2 separate regions of the Homo sapiens genome follow, and region 1 is linked to region 2. A link means that fine-mapping ties the variant in region 2 to the expression of a gene that starts in the linked region. Tissue or cell type: whole blood. Region 2 holds a variant in brackets; the other region holds the start of a gene. All regions are shown on one strand. Distances are between the middles of the regions.

What was found. PIP is the estimated chance that this variant, and not a neighbour inherited with it, causes the effect.
Region 1: it holds the start of NME8, and the variant in region 2 is fine-mapped to the expression of NME8 in whole blood (TOPMed, PIP above 0.99).

Annotation. Positions count from the first base shown.
Region 1 is chr7:37,847,110-37,849,609 of GRCh38, forward strand. NME8 (NME/NM23 family member 8) reads left to right here and starts at 1,488. Exons shown (of 18, transcript NM_016616.5): 1 at 1,488-1,619; 2 at 1,715-1,947.
Region 2 is chr7:37,675,710-37,678,469 of GRCh38, forward strand. No RefSeq gene overlaps it. Among named protein-coding and RNA genes, the nearest start is that of GPR141, 6.7 kb to the right of the region's middle. The variant C/G (reference allele first, on the strand shown) is at 1,221.

The DNA of each region.
Region 1 (2,500 bases), 170 kb after region 2:
AGGAAAGTAAAGAGAAAAAGAACGAAAGAGAAAGAAAGAAAAAGAAGAGGAAGAAGAAGAAGAGGAAGAAGAAGAGGAAGAAGAAGAAGAAGAAGAAGAAGAAGAAGAAGAAGGAGACGGAGGAGACGGAGGAGACGGAGGAGACGGAGGAGGAGGAGGAGAAGGAGGGGAAGAGGAAGGAGAAGAGGAAGGAGAAGAGGAAGGAGAAGGAGAAGAAGAAGAAGACGAAGGAGACGAAGGACACGGAGGAGACGGAGGAGACAGAGGAGACAGAGGAGGAGGAGGAGAAGGAGGGGAAGAGGAAGGAGAAGAGGAAGGAGAAGAGGAAGGAGAAGTGGAAGGAGAAGAGGAAGGAGAAGGAGGAGGAGGAGAAGAAGAGGAAGAGGAAGAGGAAGAAGAAGAAAGAAGAAGAAGAAAGAAGAAGAAGAAGGAGAAAGAAGAAGGAGAAGGAGAAGGAGATGGAGGAGACGGAGGAGGAGGAGAAGGAGGGGAAGAGGAAGGAGAAGAGGAAGGAGAAGGAGAAGGAGAAGAAGAAGAAGAAGAAGGAGATGAAGGAGATGGAGGAGACGGAGGAGACGGAGGAGGAGGAGGAGAAGGAGGGGAAGGGGAAGGAGAAGAGGAAGGAGAAGTGGAAGGAGAAGAGGAAGGAGAAGAGGAAGGAGAAGGAGAAGGAGGAGGAGAAGAAGAGGAAGAGGAAGAAGAAGAAGAAAGAAGGAGAAGAAGAAGAAGAGGAAGAAGAAGAAGAAAGAAGAGGAAGAAGAAGAAAGAAGAGGAAGAGGAAGAGGAAGAAGAGGAAGAGGAAGAAGAAGAGGAAGAAGAAGAAGAGGAAGAGGAGGAAGAAGAGGAGGAGGAGGAGGAGGAAGAGGAGGAAGAGGAGGAGGAGGAGGAAGAGGGAGAGGAAGAAGAGGAAGAGGAAGAGGAAGAAGAAGAGAAAGAAGAAGAAGAAAAAGAAGAAGGAAGAAGAAGAAAGAAGAAGAAGAAAAGAAGAAGAAAAGAAGAAGAAGAAGAAAAGAAGAAGAAAAGAAGAAGGAAGACGAAGAAGAAGAGGAAGAGGAAGAGAGAAGAAAGAAGAAGAAGAAGAAGAAGAAGAGAAGAAGAAGAAGAAGAAGAAGAAGAAGAAGAAGAAGAAGAAGAAGGAAGAAGAAGAAGAAGAAGAAGAAGAAGAAGAAGAAGAACAAGAAGAAGAAGAAGAAGAAGAAGAAGAAGAAGAAGAAGAAGAAGAAGAAGAAGAAGAAGAAGAAGAACAAGAAGAACAAGAAGAACCAAACCAGGGTAGATGAAGACAAAGTTAAAAAGAAAGAAAAGGCTGGTGCTGGCAGAGAGCCTTCTGCTCCGATTTGAGGTGTATGCATTTTATGCTGTAAAGCGTGGCCAGTCACAGGAGGATTCAAAGGCGAGGAGAGATATGATCAAATCTGCACTTGGGAAAGCGCACCTTGGTGCGCATCTGGGGATAGAGGAACGTAGGGATGGGAGGATGGGGGATGGGAGTTTGGGGATGAGGCAGCTGAAGAACAGAGTCTTGTGATGGTGGAACCAGGACTTCGTTGTTCCTTCATTGTGTGGGCAGAAGAGGTGGAGGATTTTAGGCGCCACCTGGTCTTGTCCCCACTGCCCAGGTATAGCTGCTGTCTGGAGCAGGGGCCTCGAGACGCCGCTCAAGTCTCACGGGCAGATGGGTTGGACAAAACATTGCCCCCCTTCTTCTTCCCAGACAGGCAGGGAATCCCTCTTCTTCCTTTTGCTGAATCAGCTGGAGAAGAAAGCCCAGCAGGAGGCCTGCTAGCCTCAGCCTCGGGCCCTACCAGGGTCCTAGGTACTGGAATGGAACTTCGCCGAGGTCACCGCTCAAACGGCCACAACGAGGGAGCCGATTTAGATCCTCTGGGCCTGTTCCTTCCTTTTCTTTAAACGTCCCAGTCTAGCTTAGAGGAGGACCTGTTTTGTGTAAGGCTTGCCGGAGCAACCAGCACCTTTCCTGGAATACAGTCTTGTTTGTGGCTTTTCCTTTGTTGTACGCTAGCGTGCACTATCGCCCGCACGCTGACTGACCCCTGTTCTACACCGCCCCTGATACCACTGAATAGGGAGTTTGAGAAGTTTATGTCGTGCCCCAGAAAACACTAGTGGCCTTGTTCTCAAGATTAAATATCCTTAGAGCAGCCAGATCTGAAGAGGGACCCCAGAAAGATCCACGGGCATGTTCATTTGTTTGCAATTGATAATATAGGAAACACTTTCTAATATTTCAGGAAAACAAAACCTTTAAAAAAACCAGACGACGTGTAACTCCTAACATTCTTACCTTGCTTCAGGACTGTTGGGAGGATAAGATAGTGTGGCAGCTATAAGCATTTAGCATAGAGCCTAGCATACAATAGTCCTTCCATGACATTAGCTTCTCTCTCCCCAGCAAAGATGACACTGCATAATCCAATGTACAGTGGGGAAATTTTTCACTAGTACATTAAGATGTTATTTGCAGTTAGAAAGAATGAAT
Region 2 (2,760 bases):
GGCAACAAGAGCAAAAACTCCATCATAAAATAATAACGATAATAATAATGGAACTGTGAAAATAATTAGTGTCAAATCACCTGTACCAGTAAATTTTTAGTGTGGAACATTTAAAAATGAACTTTTATTATTTAAGTATATTGTTTACACAGAAAAATGCACAAATCACAGAGTGCAACCAGATGAGTTATCACAATGTCAGCACATTTGAGTGCTCGCCACCCAGATCAAGAGATAGCAGGGAAGTACCCCTTCTTCCCCTAATTGCTCCCACTCCTCCCATGCCTTCAGTGGTAACCACTGGCAGGGCTTGCAACATCATAGATCAGTTTTCCCTGTATTTAAACTTCATATAAATGTAACCACACAGTGAATTCTTTGTTTTTGGCTTCTTTTCTCAATACTATGTTTGTGAAATGCATCTATGTTTTTGCATGTAACATTATTTCATTCATTTTCATTGTTAAAGAGCAACTACGCGTCCATATTTTTTTTAAAAAAGAATACATTTTATTGTTAAGCCACATCAAGGATTATTTCCAGATTTTGACTACTGTGCTTTTTTCTGTTATGAACATTCTTGTAGTATTTTTGGCACATATACATATGCATTTTCTGTTGGGTACATATCTAATAATGAAATTGCTGCATCATGAGACAAAGGAATGTTGAGCTTGAGAAGTAAAGCTTTAGCTGTACCACTAGCAGCGTATGCAAATTCTATTTGCTCCACATCCTCCTCAATACTTGGTATTGTGGTTTTTTTAATTTTAGCCATTTGGTATATATTTAGTGGTATTCCATGGCTGTTTTTAATTATCATTTACCAAGTGACTAATTTAGATGAGTAACATCGCCTGTACTTATGAGAAAACCTTCTTTTGCAAATTGCTTATCCAGGTATTTTGTATGTACTAATTTTATTATATTATCTATCTTTTTTCTCATTTATACATATTTGATATGAATCTTTGGTCAGTTATATGAACTACAAATATCTGCTTTCATTCCATGGTTTCTCTTTTTACTGTCTTGATATCTTTGATGAGTATAAAGTCTTATTTTAAAGTAGTTTGACTCAGTCTCCTTTTTAGTGATTAGTGAGTTTTGTATTCTTAAAAAATTTTTCCTATACTCCAAGGTAAAGAAGATAATCTTTGTTATCTTCTAGAAGCCTTATTGTCTCACTTTTCACATTTAGGTCAACAATCTATCTGGAA[C/G]TGATTTTTTGCAAATAATGTGAGGTAGAAACTCAAGATTCATTTTTCCCCCTGATTTGAATGTTTAATCGACCCAACATCATTTATTAAAAAGACTTCCTTCCTTCTTTCCTTCCTTCCTTCCTTCCTTCCTTCCTTCCTTCTCTCCCTCCCTCTCTCCCTGTCTTTCTTTCTTTCCCTCTTTCTTCTCTTCTTCTTCCCCACTGCTTTACATTGCCACCGTTTTTGTAAATAAGTGTTCATCTATGCGTGTGGATCATTTGCTGGACTCTATACTATATTTCTTTATGATTGTGCTAATACCATGCAGTTTTAATAATTTTAGCTTTAAAATAAATCTTGGTATCTGGTAATTCAGTCTTTCAAATATTTTAATTTTCTTCCATTTTCTTGGACATTTAAGGCGCTTTACATTGCCATATAAATTTTTGGATTTACTTGTTAATTTTCACAAAATCATTTATTTGGGTTTTTATTAGGAATATATTGAACATAGGTAGTTTTGGGGAAGCACTGCTATCTTCACAATATTGAACCTTTTTATGTGAAAGTAATGCATAGTCTTCCACCCACTGAGATCTTTGTTAATTTCTCTCAATATTTTATATTATTCTACATTGAAGACTTGCTTATCTACTGTTAAATTTATTCCTAGGCATTGAAGTTTTTTCATTTTGATGCTAATTAAAATGGTATTATTTAAAAAAATTGTATTATTTGCTTCTTTGTTGCAAGTGTGAAATGCAATTGATTTTTGAAAATTAATATGTAACTTTTGGCTTTACAATAGTTAACAAATTTATTCTATAAGTCTATCTATGGAGTCTTTGTATTTTATATGTATAAAATAATGTCCCTTGGAAATAAAGATTGTGTTATTTCTTTCTTTCCAATATTTATACCTTTTATTAATTATTTTGCCTCACTGCATTCTGTTAGGATCCAATAAAACATCTTTAGTAAGAGTGGCAACAGATGGCATCCTTGACTTATACTTGCTACCAGGAGGAAAGCATTCAATATTTTCCCATTAAAGCAGGTCGTTTGCTGTAGGATTTTGTATGTATCCATCTATTCTTCATTTGTAGGTGCCTTTTAAAAAATCATGGATGGATGTTGAATTTTATCACGATTTTTCTGCCTCTGTTTGAGAAGATCCTATGATTTTTCTCCTCTATTTTGCCTAGGTGGTGAATTGCACTCACTGATTTTTACATGTGTTGTCTTCTTGGAATAATTCTCGCCTGACCATAATGCCATGCCTTAGTGTGTGTGTGTGTGTGTGTGTGTGTGTGTGTGTGTGTGTTTTCTGAGTCAGGTCTCATTCTGTTGCTCAGGCTGTAGTGCAGTGACTTGATCATAGTTCACTGCAGTGTTGAACTCCTGGGCTCTTGCTTTGACCTCCCAAAATGCTGGCATTACAGACTTGAGCCACCATGCCCAGCTATAATTTATATATATGTATCACTAGATTTTATTTGCTAATATTTTGTTTACGAGTTTTGTGTCTATATAAATCAGAGTAGACTTTGCTTAGGTC